Linked DNA regions of Homo sapiens. The protein of the gene in region 5 purifies or fractionates together with the protein of the main gene of each other region. This does not show direct contact. Each region holds a gene or a part of one and is shown on either strand. Other genes may lie near its edges.

Evidence for each region.
Region 1: the proteins of DUSP15 (region 5) and SMC4 purify together in Homo sapiens (affinity purification with mass spectrometry, with the first as the bait; one large-scale study listed by BioGRID). This does not show direct contact.
Region 2: the proteins of DUSP15 (region 5) and PCK1 purify together in Homo sapiens (affinity purification with mass spectrometry; one large-scale study listed by BioGRID and IntAct). This does not show direct contact.
Region 3: the proteins of DUSP15 (region 5) and CRACR2A purify together in Homo sapiens (affinity purification with mass spectrometry; one large-scale study listed by BioGRID and IntAct). This does not show direct contact.
Region 4: the proteins of DUSP15 (region 5) and LRPPRC purify together in Homo sapiens (affinity purification with mass spectrometry, with the first as the bait; one large-scale study listed by BioGRID). This does not show direct contact.
Region 6: the proteins of DUSP15 (region 5) and ANKRD52 purify together in Homo sapiens (affinity purification with mass spectrometry, with the first as the bait; one large-scale study listed by BioGRID). This does not show direct contact.
Region 7: the proteins of DUSP15 (region 5) and POLE purify together in Homo sapiens (affinity purification with mass spectrometry, with the first as the bait; one large-scale study listed by BioGRID). This does not show direct contact.

The regions. Positions count from the first base shown.
Region 1 is NC_000003.12:160,409,650-160,413,149, forward strand, and holds part of SMC4 (structural maintenance of chromosomes protein 4), read left to right. Parts: intron 1-2,270; coding exon 2,271-2,435; intron 2,436-2,676; coding exon 2,677-2,804; intron 2,805-3,500. UniProt on the Homo sapiens protein: Central component of the condensin complex, a complex required for conversion of interphase chromatin into mitotic-like condense chromosomes.
Region 2 is NC_000020.11:57,566,366-57,568,621, forward strand, and holds the end of PCK1 (phosphoenolpyruvate carboxykinase, cytosolic [GTP]), read left to right. Parts: 3' UTR 1-1,756; downstream 1,757-2,256. UniProt on the Homo sapiens protein: Cytosolic phosphoenolpyruvate carboxykinase that catalyzes the reversible decarboxylation and phosphorylation of oxaloacetate (OAA) and acts as the rate-limiting enzyme in gluconeogenesis.
Region 3 is NC_000012.12:3,620,610-3,624,109, forward strand, and holds part of CRACR2A (EF-hand calcium-binding domain-containing protein 4B), read right to left. Parts: intron 1-3,500.
Region 4 is NC_000002.12:43,887,990-43,891,489, forward strand, and holds part of LRPPRC (leucine-rich PPR motif-containing protein, mitochondrial precursor), read right to left. Parts: intron 2,374-3,500; exon of another isoform or gene 2,234-2,373; intron 1,888-2,233; coding exon 1,745-1,887; intron 668-1,744; coding exon 611-667; 3' UTR 1-610. UniProt on the Homo sapiens protein: May play a role in RNA metabolism in both nuclei and mitochondria. In the nucleus binds to HNRPA1-associated poly(A) mRNAs and is part of nmRNP complexes at late stages of mRNA maturation which are possibly associated with nuclear mRNA export.
Region 5 is NC_000020.11:31,864,053-31,867,527, reverse strand, and holds part of DUSP15 (dual specificity protein phosphatase 15), read left to right. Parts: intron 1-374; coding exon 375-457; intron 458-2,525; coding exon 2,526-2,575; intron 2,576-3,475. UniProt on the Homo sapiens protein: May dephosphorylate MAPK13, ATF2, ERBB3, PDGFRB and SNX6.
Region 6 is NC_000012.12:56,248,385-56,251,884, reverse strand, and holds part of ANKRD52 (serine/threonine-protein phosphatase 6 regulatory ankyrin repeat subunit C), read left to right. Parts: intron 1-3,014; coding exon 3,015-3,126; intron 3,127-3,318; coding exon 3,319-3,390; intron 3,391-3,500. UniProt on the Homo sapiens protein: Putative regulatory subunit of protein phosphatase 6 (PP6) that may be involved in the recognition of phosphoprotein substrates.
Region 7 is NC_000012.12:132,673,843-132,677,342, reverse strand, and holds part of POLE (DNA polymerase epsilon catalytic subunit A), read left to right. Parts: intron 1-689; coding exon 690-797; intron 798-1,138; coding exon 1,139-1,249; intron 1,250-1,522; coding exon 1,523-1,608; intron 1,609-1,825; coding exon 1,826-1,945; intron 1,946-3,500. UniProt on the Homo sapiens protein: Catalytic component of the DNA polymerase epsilon complex. Participates in chromosomal DNA replication.

The DNA.
Region 1 (3,500 bases), on a different chromosome or scaffold from region 5:
TTTGGGATGGTTTTTCATTTTCTTAAAATAAGTGTTCAGATATTCTCCTTGAATTGGGTAGAATATTAATTGTCAGATATTGTTTTTTATTTGGATGATAAACACTAACCCACAGGATTTAAACTACAACTTCTAGACTAGGCATGGTGGGTCATGCCCTTAATCCCAGCATTTTGGGAGGCTGAGGCAAAAGGATCGCTTGAGCCCAGGAGTTCGAGACCAGCCTGGGCAACATAGAGGGACCACCATGTGTACAAAAAAAATTTTTTTTTAAAGATTAGCTGGGTGTGGTGGTGTGCATCTGTAGTCCCGGCTACTTGGGACACTGAGGTGGGCGGATCGCTTGAGTCTGAAAGGTCAAGGCTGCAGTGAGCTGAGACCACACCACTGTACTCCAGCTTAGGTGACAGAACAAGACCCTGTCTCAAAAAAATAATAAATGAGTGAACAAACAAACTGCAGCCTCTAGATCAGTAGTTCTCAGCTGACAGTAATTCTGCCCCTTTTCCCATAGGACATTCAGTAACGTCTGAAGACAGTTTCGGTTGTTATAGCTGGTAGAAGTGGGGATGCTACTGGTGTCTAGTGGGTGAAGGTCAGAAATGCTATTAAAGCATCTTATAATGCCCAGCATAGCTCTCCACAACAAAGAATATCCAGCCCAAAATGTCAGTAGTGCCACTGTTGATAAACCCTACGTAGATACAAACTTGAATAAGACTCTTGGCTTCCTCAGTGACTTAACGTTCATCCTGTGTAATCCAAAGGTTTGGGCATTTTTCCAGGCTTCAATCCTGTCTAAAACTTAAACTCTTGCTGCAAACATTTAGAGAGAACTAACAGTTGAAAGCAGAATAAAATACTTTATATAAATATCTACATATTTTCACTTATATACCGATTCATACATAATATAATGAATGTTATGGAAAATAACTTTTGGGGTAACAGTTTTACTTTGATAATCATTGTGCTTATAGACTGTCAGAAGTATCGAAAAGTGATTTATGCAAATAAAATTATTTCTTAATGAGTAGATTTTCAAATAAGCTGTTTTGTCCACTGTTATTGAATTGTTTACTTTTTGTAATTATGTTGAGGCTTTTGGTGAATTATGATGCTCTCATTAGTAAGTTTTACCCCACATTTTTAAGGTTCACCTGTATTCACTTAGGAAATAGGAATCACTAAGATATTTGAATTAAGAAAACAATATACTATTTTTAATGTGTAATTCTTTTTGTTGACTTTTTTCGTCTTTGCTATTTTGTTGAAAATAAGAGGTATATCTTTTTTCATTTGCCTGTACCTATTCTTCCATTGTAATAGTCTAGAGTACAAACAAGCTACTCCTATAACGTAGCAGCATTTGGCCTGAACATACTCAGACACAATTTTCTCTCCACCATCAAACTAAATGACTGCCTAGCAGTCAGCCTTGATGGTTACTTATTATGGATTTTTTTTCTCTTTACTCTTCATAATTAAACTGCATAAATGCAAATATGTAAAGTTAATCTAAGATTTTAATTACAGTTCAAAGTTGTTATATTAGTGATTACAAACTGAAAGTTTTCTGATGTCTTATGTACCAGTGCCATTAGTTTTCTCTAGTCAAGGTGGTCTGTTTGATTTCTGTTATTACCATGAGAAATAGGTAATATCCTTTTCTGTCAAAGGCTCTTGTTTTTAGAAAACTGAACATGTAAGTTTTTGACTACCTTTGAAACCCATTACTTGTTAAGGAACTCCTAAAAACCATGTTTGTAGAGAAAGTTGGTAATACTACTTTGGGACAGGGTTCCTAACACAGTTTAACCATGCAAGTGTTTTTGAAAATTCTTTGTTTTAGAACAGGAGCTTCAATTGTGTTATTAACAATTGATAATGTTTCCACTATAATCAGATTGCAGATTAAGTGAAAGCTTTCCTAAATTTTACTTAAAGAAACAAGTTTTATTTATTTATATTGAACATTCTAGTTGGGGAAATGAGTGTGTGTAAGTGGGTGTATATTACACTTTTATAAGGATTTATCTAAGGGAATATAAATTCATGTTTCATATCTCCCTGTGTAAAATTAAAACTCTTAGGAATACCAGTGAAAATAACATTTTTATTTATACCTTATTAAATCATTGCACTACTAACTGTACATTATTTAGATGTTTATTACTCTTGGCTTTATTATTTAACTGCTCCCAATTCTCACTTAAGATTGATTTAGCTAAACATACACAGTGAGTATGAAATATAACTTTTTTTTAAAGGGTGAAGTTGAACAAATTGCTATGATGAAACCAAAAGGCCAGACTGAACACGATGAGGGTATGCTTGAATATTTAGAAGATATAATTGGTTGTGGACGGCTAAATGAACCTATTAAAGTCTTGTGTCGGAGAGTTGAAATATTAAATGAACACAGAGGAGAGAAGGTGAATCATCTGTAGACTTTCATTGTAAATCAGAATGTTTCATTTATGATCTAACAAATTTTAGTAAGTCAGATATTCATGTTATAATACTTAATGAAGAAGTGTTATATTGAAATTTATATCTTAACATTTAAGATGAACATTCTCCTTATTAACTGTTTTTATCTAATGTTTGCATATTTTAAGTTCATATTGTACATATGAAGTGTGTATTCAGTCTTTAAACTTTTAATTTCTGTAGTTAAACAGGGTAAAGATGGTGGAAAAGGAAAAGGATGCCTTAGAAGGAGAGAAAAACATAGCTATCGAATTTCTTACCTTGGAAAATGAAATATTTAGAAAAAAGAATCATGTTTGTCAATATTATATGTAAGTGCCTTGATTGATATTACCAATTTTTATATTAGTTTTTAACCATTAAGTCAAAGCCCTTCTCTTTTCCTAGAGAAACATGAAGACTGAAGTGAAAAAAAATCTCTAAATATTGTTTTGTGTGACTGAATGTGTTAGCTCATGCCTGTAATTCCAGCACTTTGGGAGGCTAAGGCAGGAGGATCACTTGAGGCTGGGAGTTCAAGACCAGCCTGGGCAACATAGCAAGACCCCATCTCTACAAAAAAAGGAATTATGTGGTGAACTTATCCAATGTGAGGACTATCTGGCTGTGACACCTGTCATCCCGTTGATCACCAGGGTTGAATTTATTAAATTAGGCATATTAATTCATTGAAGTTGACTTTTTAGTATCCTGCTTTAAGTTGGGAGGTAGGTTCACAGGTATTTATTACTGTACTCAGTCCTTTTACGTGTGCACTTTTTAAAATTCGTGTAATAGCAGATCTGATTTTTTTCAGCTTATGATGAACTGTTTTTTGAGATGGGCTGTTTCACCCAGGGTGGAGTGCAGTGTGTGATCACGGCTCACTGCAATCTCAACCTTCCGGACTCAGTTGATCCTCCCACCTCCACTTCATGAGTAGCTGGGACTACAGGGCACACACCAACACACCTGGCTAATTATTATTATTATTATTGTTGCTGGGATTTTTTTGTTTTTATTTTTTC
Region 2 (2,256 bases), about 26 Mb from region 5:
TACACCATTGTTCCTTACCTTTACATAATTGCAATATTTCCCCCTTACTACTTCTTGGAAAAAAATTACAAAATGAAGTTTTATAGAAAAGATGGATTTGCTTTGCTTGGTTTTTCTTATTTGAGCTACCAAGAGGAGAGAACTCTGATTAAATATCTTGTGATTTAAATCCTGCCCCCTCCCCAAGAAGGTGGGGACGTTCAGAATCACACTTGAAGAGGGGGTGCATTGCCTGGTCCCAGGGAGAAGGAGGGAGCAGATGGGGAGGAATGAGGCAGGGAACCATGGTTGGGGTTTTCTGAATTTGCTGAAGCCACTAGTTGGCATCCTTTAACAATTCTACAAACCTTTAGATGGTGAGGCTTATGTGGCAGGACTGGGAGGGTTTAATGCATGCTTTTTGACAGTTTGGATCTGGAGGGGTCTCAGGCTTCCACAAAAATTACATTGTGGACAGTTTCATAGGATTTTGCCTTTTAACTCTTCAAAGCAACAGTTTTCTCAACTGTCATCCCCGCGGGGGAGCAGAGGAAGACAAGTGAGAAGGAAAAGGGGACAGGATCTGGGTTGAGCAAGCATTAATTGAGCGCCTTCTGTATCCCGGACATCATGCCAACACCATGGGCTGCCCGAGAAGAGAGGTGGGTGGTTTGGTCCCCAGCTCTGCCTTGAACCCTCACCTGCTCTCCTCTACTCCCAGTGTTTATTGGATATTCCAGAACAGTCCAAACGAACCATAAACTTTATATCACAGATTCAATCTGTGTAAATACTATTATCTTCAAGTTGTAGTTTCTTTCTTGGGCCCAGGCTGTGAAATTGGCTTCACCCCTACCACACCCCAGCGGGCAGGCTTGTTCTTATGTCACACTCCACCCCTCCAGTCTCCTCAACTGGAAAACTTGCCTCTTTTCCTCACTTCCTCTGCTCCTTACAATGGCTTCATATGGAAGGTGAAGCTGAGATCACCCCAATTTTACAGGTGAGGAAACTGAGGTCAAGCTAGGAGCGTCCAGCGGGGCTGAGAAATTGCCAGGATTTCCTTCCCCATTAAGGAGCTGAGAGTCTTAGCTCCAGACACGTTGGCTTGTTAGAATATCAAAACCACCGAAGGGGAAAAACCACTTACTGGAATTAAATGCTATCTGCTGTATTAGTTTAAATCAGTGGCGTTCAAACTTGTTTCTCCTTTTCACTGCGGAACACGTTCTTGACATGTACTTGACTCAGAGTCCCATGTCTAAAGGAGACAGAGCCCAAGGCAGCCCACCTGAAGCTGGGGAGGGAGTCCAAAGTGCAAGCCACCTGGTCTCCATTTCCCCGCCCCTTGGGGGCCTTTGGGCAGCTCCTTGGACCCCTGAAAGAGGCCACCAGGATAAACTTTGTTAAAATGCATGCCTTGTGCCCCACTGTCCTATTACGGGCTTTCAGTAGTCTCCACTCCCTCGGCAGGCAAAGACACTGGCCATCTCCAAATTCCCTCCCCTCCTGCACAGCATCAGCCACCTGGCAAGCAGTCTCACATAGGACCATTTGCCAGCAGGCCCTGCAAGCCTGGGGGACAGCCTAGAGGAGGTGACTTACATACACAGCATAAGAGTTTTCAGGAGACCAAAAAGATTCAATATATGTCATTAACTCCTGACTCAGTTTCCCCAAACCATGCCTCCTGAGTGCTCCCTCTGTCTCCAAATCCTGATTTTTGTGCGCGGACCCCTGTCTACAATAAACAGGATCCTATGACTTCTTTCTTCAATGTTCTCTTGTCGTGCCTTCAGATGATGCAAAGTATGTAAGCTAAGCCCACTTGCAGGAAGCTCACAGAAGGCAAGAGGCTCATCACTTGAAAATACGGTTGGAGTGAGATGGAAAGCCCAGAGTCTCCTGATTCCTGGTCTACCACTGGACCACATGACTCCAAAACCAACACTGTGACTGACGTCCTCTACTGGAGTCCAGTGTAAGAGCTGTCCCCTGACCTCCAGGAAGCTGTGTTGCAGTCTGGGTTAAAGACCAGAAAACAATAGTTACACAGCAAATGTTGAACCAGGACAACAAACCTGCCCTTATTCCCAGTCGAGTCACTTAGGGGGCACTGACAGGTAGGCAGGCGGGGTGGCTAGGTGGGGCCGGGGCACACTTGGGAGTCAGGAGTTACAGGGCTCTTTCTCTTCTCTCCCTCTCCCTGGGGACCCACCCTAACCTGGACACCCCCGGGCTGCTCACTCGGCCCTCTGGATGCCAACAGCATGCACC
Region 3 (3,500 bases), on a different chromosome or scaffold from region 5:
TCAACACCATAAGCACTGAATTATGAGAACTCTTTAGTATATGGGTCCTCACTTCTCCAACCTTTTCCTCTAGATTCTTATTTCCAATCAAGTCTCTGCTACTTAGTATCTTATTAACTGGAACCCTCTAAAAATGGTATCTATTGGTCAGATGGTAACTTGTGTTTGCAATGATGACTCAAAGGCGCTACAAGATCTTACAGTGTCTTCTGACCCATCAAAAATAGATTAAATTCTGGACACTGCAGTTGATGTCCTAAGTGGATTGTACATATTCCAACTACTTGAAAGTGAGAAAGCCACTGATGGCATATATGGAACCCTGTGGCCCCCTATTAGCTAGAGCGTTCACTAATGGGAACACCCCCTCCTCTGACCGTGCTGTGCCACGGGATACTTGTGCGAAGAGCTTTTCACGGAAAGGGAAGAAAGGAGGAGGAAGCAGGGAAATGGGCCAAGCGGCTTGCTGTTTAGAGCACATGGGAGAGAGATATTTGTAGATTTATGTGTGAGGAATGATTAAGGCTTGTGGGATTTCTTGACATGGAAACTCTGAAAATATGAGCATCAGACTTGAAATCCCAGGGCAGAATTCTACCCCAGGTTTTGGTATTATTTGGAATGGGCACTGGCTTCTGTTTCCTCGCTTGCAGAGGGGATGATGGATACTGAATGACCCAATAGGATGGGGTAGGGAATGGGTCATAAGCCCAACATCTGGGTCCTATGCACCATAAACAGCAATGGTGCCTCTTGCGTCCTGGGAAAAGAAAGGGCAGGTTTCTTCTTTTTTTTTTTTTTTGGGAGGCCGAGGTGGGTGGATCATGAGGTCAGGAGTTCAAGACCAGCCTGGCCAAGATGGTGAAACCCTGTCTCTACTAAAAATACAAAATTTAGCCAGGTGTGGTGGTGGGCACCTGTAGTCCCAGCTACTTGGGAGGCTGAGGCAGAGAATTGCTTCAACCTGGGAGGCGGAGCTTGCAGTGAGCCAAGATTGTGCCACTGCACTCCAGCCTCAGTGACAGAGAGAGACTCTGTCAAAAAAAAAAAAAAAAAAAAAAAAAAAAAAAAACCAAAGCAATTCCTGGATATAAAAATAAAGGAGCTTAGAAGGAGCAGAAAAAAAAAATTTAAAAGCAAAGCACTCAGCAGGAGCTGCGGTTTCTGTTCTTTGTATTGTTCCTCTCTTACACAGCCACTCTGGACAACTGGCTTCCCTGCAGGGACCCTGGCCTGCCACCGATAAAGGAGAAACAGACTCATCTCCAAATATTTGGCAAAAATAAATGAGAATACCCATAAGACCAGGGAGTGTGCTAACTATCACAGTCAGTCACCATCACCCTGGCCCAAGGTCATCAGTCTCTGGCACAGGGGCAGGGAGAGGAGCTGGTATTGGGGTAGGTGTCTCATGGTCCTCTCTGACTTTGACCCCAAAAGTCTGGAACTATCTGTCTAAACTTTACACCTTTCTCATACCTAACTAGGTTTTCAGCCTGCATACCACTCAGCACAAGATGTTCAAAATTACCTCCTAGATGAAGCAACACCTCCTTCAAGCCCCTAGGGCTTTGGTGAACAGGTCTCAGGTCTACTCAAACTCTGTTGTCTTGAGACTGTGAGAGATGTTGGTAAAAATCCCATCAGCATGACAGGTTGGAGTGAAGTCATCTTAGCTCCTTCATCAGGCACACAATCTCTCTTTAGGAGATGTGGGTTCTGCCCTAGCTCTGTCACCATCTCTCCATGTGACTCATCTGAGTCTCTCCTCTTTTCTGTGTCTCTCTGTTCCAAAGCCAGGTTCTGTTCTATGACCCTCTAACAGAGAGCCTTCCCTCCACCTTCAGTTATTTCAGCTGCCTTTCTGTGAACTTGAGCTTGTTGGAAGACAGACTTGTTGAAATTCAAAAGATCACCCATCTCTGACTTTAAATAACAAGAGCTGTCAACTTGGAGCAGTGGATTGGCATTCAGCTCAGAATGTGCAGCTGCTGGGTTTGGTTGGTTGTTGCCTATGTGCATGTGTGTGTGTGTGTGTGCGTGCGTTTTAATATCTATTTGCTAGGAGGCATGAAAAAGCACTTAGCTGGGATAGTGCTGCTATTTCTCTGGAGCTAGAGCAAAAATTTTTTCAGCACATTAAAGCATGCAGTTATGCTAAGAAAAAAAATGCCTGCAAAATTATATCTTGGGGGTTTCCATATTTATCCATCCCCTGGACTATGAGTCAAAACAAGATTTATTTGTGTGGTTCATTTTAAACTGCCAGCACTTCAAGCTCAACTTGGAACGTGGAGAAAAAAAAATCAAACTGCTATTTTTTGCACCATGCTGTACATTGTCACCAATGACAAAGATCGCAGAATGAGGTTTAGCTAGCAGCCCAGGAAGGGAGAGGGAAGTGGGCCAGGACCCCTTGAGCTGAAGAACTGTTCTGCTTTGAGAGAGAAGCAAGAAGGACTGAAAAGTAAATGAACACCTGCTTTTCAGGAGCAGATTTCAGCCATGGACCACAGGACAAGAGAGAAGCAGTGCAGTGTGGCAAAGCCCTCGCTTCTAGATCGGGTGGTGCTGCTGACAAGTGTGGGCGCCTTTGGGAAAGTCACTTCCTCTTTTTGGATCATAGTTTTTCTTACTTATAAAACAAGAGGTTGCATTAGATTAATCTCCACGTTTTTTTCCAGCTCGGAAACACTGGTCTATTCGGCTTAACTCCGCCAATTCTATTTCACTTCCTCGACTCACATGCCCAGGAATCTAGTGCCATCAGAACGACAAGAGGCTCTAAACAAGAAGCTCAGCATCCCAGGACTGCAGACACTGGGGGCCAGCAATCCGGCTCTGGGGGAAATACCAGCCCATACAGGCTTGTACAGGCTGGCGTTCTAATTTCTATTTTCTCTACCCGACACAGGCCCCAGAGTCTTCTGATGTCCAGTTTGTCCCATGGCCACACGTGGGGCCTTAGAGCCTGACTAGTTTCTTTTCCAGATTGGAATGGTTAAACCAATTCTACCCAATTGAGATAAGAAATTGGGGGTGGGTTGGAAATGCCGAGTTGGCCGAAAGACTGCCTGCGGTGACTTCCTATAAGGCACTCAGGAGAATCGGCACAGAGGGCATCTGCTGGGCCTCTTCTGCAGAAGGCCTGCAGGCAAGGTAAAGTTGCCTAGACTGGGTGAAATAGCAGAACAAGGGCAAGGCCACAGTCTTCCCATCTCATCAAGCAGTGCTGGTGCTCTCTTGCACCAAAGGATTTTGGTTCCCTCTGGGCTGGAAGGACCCTCCAGAATCTCCTCATCCACACACATTCCTGCTCCGTCTTGGCCTCCCAGAGAGATAGTCAAATGCCATCATACACTGTAGAAATTTAGGGGCCAGGAGGGAGCATTTGGTCTGCTGCCTTGTTGAATGATTGGCCAAAGTTTCATGGCCAGGAAGTGATCAAGATGGGATAGTAAGAACTTCCTTTCAGGGAACTCCACTACCTCCCCCGAGCA
Region 4 (3,500 bases), on a different chromosome or scaffold from region 5:
AGGGAAAGATGGGGAAGTGTGCCGAAGAGCCTCCAGGCATGACAGACAGTCCCCTGACCAAGCACAAGTAACAGGCCCTTTGGGTCTCTGCTTCTCACTGGAAAATGATGAAGCCTAGATCTGATGACTCCTAGTGCCAACATTTAACAAAGTTCGAAAGTTATGCAGGACTTCACACATGTACGGAATGGCTGTATCACAGAATATTATGCGTTAGAAAGTTCACGGTCACTATACCTAGCTCTAAAATTTTTCAGAGAAACAGCAGACTAATAAGTGAATCTTAAATAAAGGAATAACATTTTAATGAAATAAATGAAACAGAGCAGGGAAACCAAAGAGCCAATTAGGGGAAGAATCCTGAAAAAGTATGGCTTCACACAGCAGCAGCATTGAAGAAAACACTATCGATTTTTCCCAGAGAAAAAAACTCCAAAAATGTCCAATAACCAAGTGCACAGAGTTATGGTCAATAAGACTTTGAACATGCATCACACATACATAAGTACATAAAGAAAATTTTCATTTATTTTTCCCTCAGATATACTTCAAAATAACATGTAGACACAGAATCACAAATATATACAAAACAAAGTATCGCCTGGTTATTTCAAGAAGAGTTTTCCCTCAATTTTCTTAGCTGCTGTGCATAAAATTCAAAGCTTTCCTGTTAAGGAGAAAAAAAGAGGGAAGTTAGAGATACCAGCAAGAGGTGATGGTACATAACTTAAAAAATCATAAAACACTACCAACTGGTAGCTAAGACTGCCAGGCCCATGGAAGATGCTGCCCCTCAAGCTTCAGTACTCCTTCCTTGTTTCATGAAATCACAAGTTCAAGGGCCTCGGGTTCAGAGTTAAAGCTAGCAGCAGGAGGTAGGGTGCGTGTGTGTATACGTGTGTATGTGCAAGCATGTGTGTGTGCACATATGGAGGTATGGGTATGGAAGGCTGAGGTGTTTGAAATAAACACGGTGTATTGACTCAGTTCAATGACATAACAAAAAGGAATTGTGCATATGTGATTTCTCTTATTAAAGAAAACATGCCGGGCACAGTGGCTCACGCCTGTAATCCCGGCACTTTGGGAGGCCGAGGTGGGCGGATCACGAGGTCAGCAGTTCAAGACCAGCGTGGCCAACATGGTGAAACCCCATCTGTACTAAAAATACGAAAATGTGCCAGGCATGGTGGCAGGCCCCTGTAATCCCAGCTACTTGGGAGGCTGAGGCAGGAGAATCGCTTGGACCTGGGAGGCGGAGGTTGCAGTGAGCCGAGACCGTGCCATTGCACTCCAGCCTGGGCAACACAGCGAGACTCCATCTCAAAAAAAAAAAAAAAAAAAAAAAAAGGCAAAATTTCCTAGACGAAGAAATAAAAACCAACTTATGTAAATGAACAAGTAATTACCACTGACATAATATGCTTGGCTGTTGAACTACAGGCCATTAAATCCTATTTCAAGTTGAAATGAGAGAACTGCCCCAAGGACATTTGGTAAATCCATGCCTATAGCTGAAGGTCTGAGACAGACCTTGTATTTTAAACTGTGGCCCCAGAGAGCTATGTTCTCCGACTGCCGCAGCCAAGGCATGCTGCTCAGTCCCTCAAGCCATCCCCTGAGGGCTCTTCACAGAGATCTAATCCTCATGTAATTAAGTCTTCAACTTATTTTCTTACACATTGTTATGAAGTGCACATAAATCTGCAGAGGTATTTTTTCCCCTTAATTAAGAAATACTCACAGGGGGTTCAATGAAAGGGACAGGCTCTCCAGCATACTTCAGCAAAGATGCGTAACGCTTTAGAAACAGATCATCCAATTTTGTATTCTTTGCAGTCAAATGTTCATACAGTGCTTTAGCAGATGTGACATCTTTCTCTGAGACTGACATAAAGAAAAAAATATATTAATCAGAGATAAAGACAACCTATCTTACTCTTTTCACCAAAACAGCCACTCAGGGACGGCTGGATCCCTTTATCCCACGGCAAATGAACACTTAACTACTTTCAGTAAGAAGCCACATTCAGAATCTACCATCTCCCTCACTTCTCTACATCCCTCATTCGGCATCACTCACTTTGAAGGAGAAGAAAATGACAAATATGGCTACATTTAAAGGACTTTAGAATAATATTGATACCATTCACTTAGGTTATTACATTATTTAAGACCTATGATAGTTCAAGTGACCACAAACTGAAGTCCTCAGTTATAAAATAATACACACCATTCAATCCCCTTTGGCTTAAAACCACTGTGAAATCAAGATAATCCAGGAACTGTTGTGGAGAGGGACATGTCAATTATGTAGAAATCTACATCAACATCAAGATCATCAGCTCAACATCAAAAAAGCTTTTCATTTTTCTATTGTAAAATAAACAAATATGGAAAGTATAGTTAGCTACAATGATACACACACACAAAAAACCTATAGGCCGGGCGCAGTGGCTCACGCCTGTAATCCCAGCACTTTGGGAGGCCGAGGTAGGCGGATCACGAGGTTAGGAGATCGAGACCATCCTGGCTAACATGGTGAAACCCTGTCTCTACTAAAAATACAAAAAATTAGCCGGGCGTGGTGGCGGGTGTCTGTAGTCCCAGCTACTTGGGAGGCGGAGGCAGGACAATGGTGTGAACCCGGGAGGTGGAGCTTGCAGTGAGCCGAGATGGTGCCACTGCACTCCAGCCTGGGCAACAAGAGCGAGACACCATCTCAAAAAACAAACAAAAGCAAAACCTATAAGGAGACATTAACAAGTTACACTAGTTTCACTTAAGTGAATGATGAAATATGTTAGGAGCCAAATTTGGCTGGCTCTCTACTTGTGGCTGATTTGTGGAAATTTTTTAGTTTACCATGGAGATGGTAAGGGCTCTGCTAACAATTACTGCTGGTAATTCAACTCCTTAATTTTGCATTAGATTGTTAGCATCTAAGCATCACATAAACCCCTGCCCTACACTGACTCTGATATTGTCAACCGCAACTCCGGCAGCACCAGGGGAACCCCTAAGACAGAGGTGAGACGTTCAGCAATCAAAGAGTCTCCCAAAGTGGAATGAGGGTGACTCATCAGCTCTTAGTGGAGTTGGAACACATCTTTGCTGTTTCCATGAAGTCAACTTCTTGTGTAAATCCTTTATTTCCCTTCCTGAGGAGCTGAACCCTTTAAGGGCTCAAGCTCTATCTTCTAGGAAGCTGCTCCGAAAATTCTGGCATCTTGCCTTTCTTTACTTCTTGATTTTCTACCTTCCTCCCAAAATGGATTACCTAATTTAGTAGTAACACACACAGATTTATGCGCTTGACACTATTTCACATTACAGGCATACCTTGGCTTTAATGCACTTTACAGATGTTGCGTTATTTACAAATTGAAGGTTTATGGTAACCCTGCCTTGGGCAAGTCTATCAATGCCATTTTTCCAACAATATGTGCTTACTTTGTGTCTCTGTGTCACATTTTGGTAATTCCTGGAATATTTCAACC
Region 5 (3,475 bases):
ACACCAGGTTGTTCCCATGTTTAAACTATTTGTGATATAAGCAGGACTGCAGAGAACATCATCCTCCACACACAGCTTTCTGTGTGAGCAAGCGCTTCTGTAGACAAGATTCCTAGAAGCAGAATTGCTGGGTCAAAGAATATGCCTGGGAAGGGTGTTTTGGATGGAAAGAACAGAATGAGCAAGGATGGGGATATGCTGTACTGTTACTTGCATGTGCCCCAGAAGCAAGAGGATCAGGGAGCCGGCAGAGCGTGGGCCAAGGTGGAGTGGTGGGGTGAGAGGGAGAGCTGGGCAGGCAGTGAGCTCCCTCCGCACTTGGCCATCAGGACATCCCGCCAGCCAGATTGGCTCAAGCATCCTGTTTCTTTCAGATGCCAAAGACCTGGATCAGCTGGGCCGAAATAAGATCACACACATCATCTCTATCCATGAGTCACCCCAGCCTCTGCTGCAGGTACTTCTTACCCCCATCCCAGGGCTATGCGGGGGTGGGAGGGTGCAGACCTGTTTATCAAATATCTACTATGTGCTAGGTGCTATGCTTCCTTCTTGACTCATGTTAACTCATTTGGTCTCCACCACTGGGCCATTTTACATTATCATCCCTATTTGGCAGTTGAGGCCCAGAGAGGTCAATTAACTCACCTGAGGTCACACATCCAGGAAGCTGAGGAGTTGGGGTATGAACACAGGCCATCTAGCACCAGAAGTCTCACACTGAACCTTAAAATGGCCCCCATATGGGCTTCCCATGACCCAACTGGATGGATGAATCCAAATGGATGACTGTGGGCTCTGTATCTTGCTATGCAACCTTGGGCTGTGACTTCACCTCTCTAGGGCTTTGATCCCTCAGCTCTGTCTGCCCCCAGAAGGCTGCTGTGAGGATGCAAAGGGACTGCAGGATGGTGAAGATGCTTTGCACACTGTAAAGCATGGTCCCCTCTAGGGCGGTTGGTGCTGGTATTATCAAGTCCTGGGAAAGGGGCATGAGGGTGTTAGGACCCAGCAGAGGAAAGTAATAAATCCAGACTACACGTGCTTATGTCAGGAACATCTTCACTGTTTATTTGCTCTATGACCTTGGGGACAGGACTTTGCCCCCTCTGAGCCTCAGTTGCCTGATCTGTAAAACGGGAACTTTATAACAGTACCCACTTCACTGAGTGGTTGGGAACCACATAAATAGATGCTCAACAAATCACAACTGATACTATAACAAATTTAATCATATTCTTATCCCATAAACAGAGCCTCTTCACCCTTATCTATTAGAGTCTGTATCATCCACTGGAGAGAAAGAACCATGGGTGGGAAAAGGTCCTGGAGATCTGAAATGAAGACCCGGTTCTGCCATAGACTTGCTGTGTGATCTTGGCCAAGGTCCTTCCCTTCTCTAGGCCTCAGTTTTCCCATATGTCAGATTTGATATTCTCTAACAGCAACCTCTAATAATCTATGATTTTCAATGTCATTCAGAGAAGAAATTTCCAGGCCATTGCAGTCTTATTTTGCCTCATAGGGCAGCCTCGTTTGGGAGTATTTGGAGTAAACAGTCACTAGAGTGCATGGGGAAGGTTGTCAAGTCATGAGTGTATTTACTAATGAAATGACAGCCTACACAATGAGTCTCTGCTCCTACGGCCCTTCCTGCTTCTCCCAAGCATCTCTCCTTCCCCCCTCCATCAGCAAATTTACCAGGCAGGGTTTGATAGTACCACACAAACCCAAGGCCAAATGTGTTGCAAAGTGAAATTGCAAACCTTGCCAAAGATGCAGGATGTCATGACCTTGGGGAATGTGAGTGAGAGAAGGGCTGGAATCTCACACAAAGCCATGGACAAATGAGAACCTGGCTGGTGGTCCCTTAGTTACTGCCAGTGACGGGCCTGGCCCCTGAAAAGAGCCATTTGAATATAAAAATGTTAAGACAGTTTCTCGAGAAAAGCAAGGAGGTCCTCAGGAGGCGGGCAAAAATAATCTTCATGATATTGTGTGGCTAATCAGGAAACAAAGGACATCACAGCAAGTTTGCTGGAAAAAATTCCTGACAATTTATTCCTTGATTATTCTCATAATCAGCACATCATTTTATAACCATGATTCCTGAAATGTATACTTGTTTTCATGATTTTTGTTTCTTTTCAAGATAATCAAATCTGCTCTACCTTTTTTACGATGTAATTTTGTAATTCCCATTTGGAGTGGAGTCCCTTTAAGTAGCCCTTTCCTAGCTACTTGATAAAGGTTCCTGGGTCCCTGTTGGGAGGGATAGGTGACGTCATGCCCACGCCGCTGATGGGGTTAGGAGACACCATGTGCTTAGAAGGTTCAGGAATCACAAGTGGTCACAGCTGGGAGGCCTCAGAGATGACAACTACTTTCTTTGGACAGAGAGGACCACAGTGGGCCAGAGAAGGGCAGGAACTGGGCTGGGGTTATGCCCTGCCTGGGCAGCTCGGACCAGCATCAGGGAGGGTTGCAGGCAAGGTCCCCTGCCTGAGTGTATTTTGTACTTGCAGGATATCACCTACCTTCGCATCCCGGTCGCTGATACCCCTGAGGTACCCATGTAAGTTCCCCTGGATGGACCCATAGATGGACAGACAGCTGCCTTCTGTGGTGGGGGAGGGGGAGGGGGTTTGAAGGAGGACAAAGTACTCAGGCCAGAGAGCTATCACAGGTGTTCAACTCAACCAGTCCCAGGTTTGACTCTGTCTCAACCATGCCCTTGTGATAGGCCCTTGGCCAAGACTCTCCACCTCCCCGAGCCTCAGTCTCATCAGCTATGAAATGGGAAAAGGACACTCTGTACCTTGGGACCAGCTACACCAGCTGATTTGAAAGGGTCATATTCAGCCTGTTCCTGGCCTTGGGGTTAAGACATCTGAGTTCCGGCCAGGCTCTGCCATTTACTTGCTGTGTGACCTTGAACAAATCACTTCCCCGCTCTGGGCCTCACCTGTAAATCAGGAGTGCATGATCAGAGTCAAGGAGGCTTTCGAAGATCAGATGACACAGGTCAAGGATCTAGGATAGGGCCTGGAGTATAACTGAGCTCAGAAAACGGGATTTTTGTTTGTGGCATCAGCAGTAGTGCCTCCCCGCTTGGGATGGAGCCAAGCAGACAGTGCTGCCCCTTGGGAATCTTGCTCCCAGCCTGCTGCTGCCCATCATTGTGCCCAGGTGCTCTGATTGCAGACCCCAGAGGAGTGGGACCCCTGTGTTTCCTCCCACCCATTTCTCTGAAAGGCCACAATAAACCCAACATGAAAACAGGGTCCACAGGAGGAGTGCTCCTGCCTAGATGGTGAGATTTGTCCTGACTGGTCTCTCTCACTGCCTGAAATGCCACCATTCTTGCTTCACACAAACACACCTCCAGCTCATACTAAGTACTGGCCCATATTCACTGCATGTGCTGGCTGACCTGGGGACCCCAGGGCTCTATGTCCCTTGCTATCCTGTAATT
Region 6 (3,500 bases), on a different chromosome or scaffold from region 5:
CTTGAGCCCTCTGGGTGTAGTCCATAGTGGGCAAAGACAAAAGTATGAGATTGAAGCTCAGGAGCTTCAGGGGGAAAAAAAAACCCAAAAGTATGAGACATAGTTCCTTCCCTAAAGGAATGGATTTTTTTTTTTTTTTTTTTTTTGGAGACAGAGTCTCACTCTGTTGCCCAGGCTGGAATGCAGTGGTGTGATCTCAGCTCACCGCGCCCGGCTGGTCTTCTTGAGAGGATTAGAAAAGCTAAATGTACAAAATAATTTGTTTATTCCACAAGCATTAATTAAATATTTACTTACTAGGTTCCAAGTACTGTGCTAGATACTAAGGATAAAAGATGAGGCTGGGCGTAGTGGCTCAAGCTTGTAATCCTAGCACTTAGGGAGGCTGAGGTAGGCAGATCACCTGAGGTTAGGAGTTCAAGACCAGCTTGACCAACATGGTGAAACCCCGTCTCTACTAAAAATACAAAAAATTAACCAGGTGTGGTGGCACACGCCTATAATCCCAGCTACTCAGGAGGCCGAGGCAGGAGAATTGCTTGAACCAGGGAGGTGGAGGTTGTAGTGAGCCGAGATCACGCCACTGCACTCCAGCCTGGGCAACCGAACAAGACTCTGTCTCAAAAAAATTAAAATTAAAAATAGGCCGGGTGTGGTGGTTCACGCCTATAATCCCAGCACTTTGGGAGGCCGAGGCAGGCAGATCATCTGAGGTCAGGAGTTCGAGACCAGCCTGGCCAACGTGGTGAAACCCCGTCTCTACTAAAAATATAAAAATTAGCTGGTCATGTTGGCAGGCACCTGTAATCCCAGCTACTCGGGTGGCTAAGGCAGGAGAATCACTTGAACCAGGGAGGTGGAGGTTGCAGTGAGTCAAGATCACACTAATCCACTCCAACCTGGGCGACAGAGTGAGACTCTGTCTCCAAAAAAACAAATAAATAAATAAAATTAAATAAAAATTTAAAAAGGATGAATTGTCCCAAATTTCTGTCTTTCGAAAGCTAATAATCTATTGGGAAAGATAAATAAAAGGACACTTATGCATACTAATGTAAGATGTTAATGACGGGAAACTAGGTATAGGTTATGTGAGAACTCCCTGTACTATCTTCACAATTTTTCTTTTTCTTTCTTTTTTTTTTTTTTTAATTAATTTATTTTGTAGGTCAGGGATCTCTCTGTGTTGCCCACACTGGTCTCGAACTCCTGGGCTCAAGCAATCCTCCTGCCTCAGACTCCCAAAGTGCTGGGATTACAGATATGAGCCACCACACCTAGCCCACAATTTTTCTATAAATCTAATAATATTCTAAAACAAAAAGTTTATTTTTTGCTGGGCACGGTGGCACATGCATATATTCCCAGTTATTCAGGAGGCAGGTGCAGGTAAGGCAAGAGGATCATGCAAACCCAGGAGTTTGAGGCTGTAGTGCACTATGATCATGCCTATGAATAGCCACTGCACCCCAGCCTGGGCAGCCTAGTGAGACCCCGTCTCTAAAAAAAAAAAAAACCCACAAAAATCAGGTAGGCACAGTGACTCATGCCTGTAATTCCAGCACTGAGGTGGGAGGATTGCTTGAGCCCAGGAGTATGAGACCAGCCTGGCTAACACATAATGAGAACTCATCTCTATTTTATTTAATTAAATAAATAAATAAATTAATTAATTTATTTATTTATTTGAGATGGAGTCTTGCTCTGTCACCCAGGCTCTAGTGCAGTTGCGCGATCTCAGCTCACTGCAACCTCTACCTCCGGGGTTCAAGCGATTCTCCTGCCTCTTCCTCCTGAGTAGCTGGGATTACAGGTGCCTATCACCACGCCCAGCTAATTGTTTTTTTGAAGACCGAGTCTCACTCTGTTGCCCAGGCTGGAGTGCAGTGGCATGAACTTGGCTCACTGCAACCTCCACCTCCTGGGTTCAAGCAATTCTGCCTCAGCCTCCTGAGTAGCTGGGACTACAGGAGCACGCTGCCACGCCTGGCTAATTTTTTGTATTTTAGTACAGACGGGGTTTCACCATGTTGCCCAGGCTGGTCTTGAACTCCCGAGCTCAGGCGATCCACCTGCCTTGGCCTCCCAAAGTGCTAGGATTGCAGGCGTGAGCCACCACGCCCAGCCTAATTTTTGTATTTTTAGTAGAAACAGGGTTTCGCCATGTTGGCGAGGCTGGCCACGAACTCCTGACCGCGGGTGATCTGCCCACCTCAGCCTCCTAAAGTGCTGGAATTAAAGATGTGAGCAACCGAGCCAGGCCCCTGTCTCCATTTAAAATAAGTAAATTAAATAATTTTTTTTTAAGATTTATTTTTTTAAAAAGGACACTAAAATCCAAGAGGCTCAGCTATTACCTTCAGCAAGTTACTTCTCTATGCCTCAATTTCATCACCCACAGTAAGGATAAAAATAGTATCTACTTCATGGGATCTTTATGAGGATTAAATTATTTAATATACATGAAGTACTTAGAACTGTGCTTGACAGTAAGTGCTACTTTATTATTATTACTACTACTACAACTACTACTAAGGTATGAGAAGACTGCCAAGGGAGCACAGAGGAAGAGGCATCTTCCCCAGGGAAGGCTGGGAAAGGCCTCACAGAGGAGAGAAGCTGGGACTGAGTTTGAGATGAACAGGACTTATTCGGGTGGGCTGGGAGGAGAAAGCATCCTAGGGCAGGGGTTGGCGTGCCTGGAGGTGGGGAAAGCATGTTGGTCAGCAGAAGGCTGATAACTGAACATCATGCTCTAGGTTCTCTAGGAGAGCATTCAGAGGATAAAGGAGGGCATTGAAGCCAGAGGGGTTCAGGGCAGACCTTGAGAAGGTAAAGTGGGTCTGGAGCTGCCATTGAAGAATGGGTAGGATTTAGAGAACCTACCTAGAGCTGAGGACGGGTGGCGGCCAGGTAGGCCTGGAGGGCCTTGGTCCTCTCCTCTGGCCCTCCCAGAACTGTGCCCTCCTGGGCTGGGCCTGTCCCTGCCTCACAGTCTACCCCCGGCTCCCCAGCTGTCTGGAGTTCTTACTGGATAACGGTGCAGACCCCTCCCTGCGGGACAGGCAGGGCTACACAGCTGTGCACTATGCAGCCGCCTATGGCAACAGACAGAACCTCGAACTGGTATGTGTTGGGGCCCGGCCTGCAGGAGGGGAGGCAGGGGCAGGGCACAGGGTTTGTGGATTCCAAAACTAAGGGTTCAATCAAATGTGGTCTTTGGATCCAGAGGCTTAGTGGGGATTACTGCGAGTCGGGGACTGGGGTACTATCTTGGGAGTTCCAGAGTCTCAGCACCTACTTTCCTGTCCTTTGCAGCTCTTAGAAATGTCCTTTAACTGCCTGGAGGATGTGGAGAGCACCATTCCAGTCAGCCCTTTGCACTTAGCTGTGAGTCCCACGTCTTTTTTCTGTTGCCTTCCTTGTCCTACCTGTTCCCAGGCCCTAACAAAGGTGCCAGCACTTGTGAAGTTATCCTTCCTTCTGCCTTTTTGTGGGAG
Region 7 (3,500 bases), on a different chromosome or scaffold from region 5:
CTTCATCCTAAAATTTCCAGTTTTCTGGAGAGAATATTCTTCAGTGCTGGAGAGTGAATCTGACTCAAAGATATGTTTGCTGCTTTTCCCCCAAATACTTTATTAAAGGAAATATGGAGTTAGAATTTTTCATCAGTTTCTGACAGTATCATTTCCTTTTTTGTTGTATATCACTGTATGACATCAGTGTTTGAGCTAGGCAGGATTTGGACACTCGAGGGAAAGCTGGGACTTCCGTTTGGGTAGTTGATAGTGAAGGGACATGGTGAAAAATGGATTTGTAACTAGAAGGCCTTGGTTCAAACATGACTTTGTGGTGTTGGGAAAGTCTTTGTATTCAGTTTTCTCTTTTCCGAAATGAAGATATCATCTCTGTGCCACAGTTACCTTTCAGAGTTGTCATAACCACCAGAATGAGGTGATGTCTTTTGAAGAGTTTTTCTCCTAAAGTTCTGTGATTTTAGGCTTGTCCTGTGATCAGCTGCTCTCTTAGGTATGTCAGTTTTCATACCATAGGGAGTCGTGATACTCTTGATGTAGGTTGGTTAGTCTTAGGGTCCTTCTCCCAGCTCTAGAGCCTTTTGACTCTTTTAACAACCAGAGGGAGGTAGAGCAGGCTGGGGGTGGGTGTTCAGGGAGGCCTAATGGGGAGTTTAGAGCTTGGCTTTATGCTTATTTTGTCCCCACAGGACCCTGTGGTTTTGGCATTTGACATTGAGACGACCAAACTGCCCCTCAAGTTTCCTGATGCTGAGACAGACCAGATTATGATGATTTCCTACATGATCGATGGCCAGGTGAGCAGGTGGCTTCTGGGAAGTAAGCTCCTGGGATGGGGACCTTGTCTGGTCCCCATACTACAGCAGCATCTGCCCCACTGTTAGTATTTGTTGAGTGAATAATGAGTTAGTCCAGGAATGGGAGCAACCAAGCCGTTCCGACCTCCAGCTGTACCCTCCCCTTTCGAGTGGGAATCCACACACAGAGCGTCTCTTCTCAGGAAGCTTAAAGCACTTTCACATTGCTGTGGACTTCTTTGTAGTGAGAATCTCTAGGCAGAGTGTGTGGGCAGGGTGGGAACGCCATTTCTTGGCTTTGCAGCCTCTGACTTGTGCTGATTGCTAATGAACTTGGCTAGGGCTACCTCATCACCAACAGGGAGATTGTTTCAGAAGATATTGAAGATTTTGAGTTCACCCCCAAGCCAGAATATGAAGGCCCCTTTTGTGTCTTCAATGAACCCGATGAGGTAAGGAGGTATCACTTGGGAAACTACCCGGTATTGTGGGAAGAACGGACATGTGGATCTTTCCAAGGCCTCAGGCATTCCGTCAGATCAGAATTGCAGCTCCATGAGCTTTGTTCTCAGGGTATGACCGTCTTTTCTGCCAGAGACGGGCGGAGGGGCGGGGCAGGAATAAGGGCCAACATGAGGCTGCTGCTTCTGAACTTTGGGAGAGGAATTTGGAATAGCTTGAAGAAGAGAAAGAGCAGACCTCTGACTGCTGTGACTTGGGTTCAGGCTCATCTGATCCAAAGGTGGTTTGAACACGTCCAGGAGACCAAACCCACCATCATGGTCACCTACAACGGGGACTTTTTTGACTGGTGAGTCTGTGTCTTCTCTATGAGTAACTGGGCAGCATTTGAGAGGGAGGGCGTTGCGTGGTGCAGGGGCGCTTCCCATGTCGACTTAGGAGGTGGCTCCTGGGTTCACTCTGCACCTCCCGTGTCTGGGTTCCTCCCTGGGTCTGAGGGAGGAATGGAGAAAGGGGCATTAGAGCCTGACCTGCCCACTTGCTTGTCTGTCCTCTTTCCAACCCAGGCCATTTGTGGAGGCCCGGGCAGCAGTCCACGGTCTGAGCATGCAGCAGGAGATAGGCTTCCAGAAGGACAGCCAGGGGGAGTACAAGGCGCCCCAGTGCATCCACATGGACTGCCTCAGGTAGGGGCCACAGAGCAGCATGGCTCCTCACTGCTGTCCGTGAGCGAGATCTGAAGGCCTCTTGCAGACTGTGCTGTCACCACATCTCATGGGAGGAGGGTGGCCTCCGAGAGGCCGTTTCAGGTCACCCAAGAGTATGGCAGCTGCAACCCTGCCAGGGCCCGGGATGTGCTGTCTTTGACTGTTGACTGACAATTCATCAGTGACCAGGCACATTGAGCATCAGCCTCTGGGGTGGGGAAGCCGCTGGAAAGACGCACTCAGCTGACAGGTCCCAGACCTAGGACCTCATGGAGCTGCTCTGCCCAGGCAAGGTTGGGATGTGGCAGCCCGGCTGCCTCACAGGACAAGCCTCACGGGACAACCACAGATTCCATATGAGCTAGGGTGGGAGGCAGCTCAGAGCTTCGGAGAGTCACGGCGTTCGGGGGCTCTGACATGACTGGTTGGGAAGACAGGTGGATGTGGAAATGCCAACAGAAGGAGGCTGGAAGGGAAGGAAGGGAAGGGAGGGAGGAAAGGAGGGAAGGGAAGGAAGGGAAGGGAGGGAGGGAAGGAAGGGAAGGGAGGGAGGGAAGGAAGGGAATGGAGGGGCCTCCACGGCCTCTGTATTCTGCACAGTGCCACTGGGGTGCTTGCAGCCTGAATGCGTTTCTGTTTAGCTCTGATGCTCAGCACTTGGCTTGGAGAGGGAGGCCAGGAGGCTGGGGCCGGTTTAGCGTGTGACGGTGTGACAGTCCTGATCCAAGGCAGGGAGTGAGGGTTGTGAGGATTCAGGATCTGTCATGTGGGGCAGGGGGAGGCCCAGGGATGCTGGTTCTTAGGGAGGGGTTGGCACCTGGGGTTTTTGTGCCATCCGTGGAGACAGGGAATGGGTAGAGAAGGGGCTTGAGGCAGGAGGTGACCCTGCTACCGATATGCTAGCCTGGAAGCCCCACCCATATGGGGGCCCTGAAGACCACCATGAGGCTTGGTTTGGGCTCGCACTGTAGATTGGGACTCACTGGGTTGCGGGTGGGTCTTGGTGAAAGCTGGGGTAGTGGATGAACTGAAGGCAAGAGGTAAAGTGAGAGAAGAAGGCCACAGGGTGGAGGCTGCGGGGGGTGGAGACCGGACATGACCCCTGGACAGCTGCTCCAGGGAATGCGTCTGTAGGGAGGAGGTAGAGACAGGTTCCGGGTAGAGTGTGGGGGGCCTTCTTTTCTTAATTTTTATTTTTTATTTATTTTTTAAATTTTTATTCTTCTTGGCATCTGATCACATCTTGCCTTCTATTAAAGGAGGGTGGGCTTGAGTGTTTCCGTGCTGAAGGGACAGTGTGAGGAGAGAAGATCAGTGTGGTTGATAGAACTAGGCCCCAGGGGTGCAGACCTGAGGTCTGGGGAGAGGCCCAAGGAGGTGGGGCGCCCGTCGGAGAGGCCACAAACTCTGCTGAGGATGGGAGGAAGGCGAGGGCCGGAAGGACCAGTCCTGGTGCTTCCTTGTGTTGTGGATAGGTCTGTGAGATTAACTAGATCCTGATGAAGGGTTTTCACAAGGTGTCTACACCATGTGG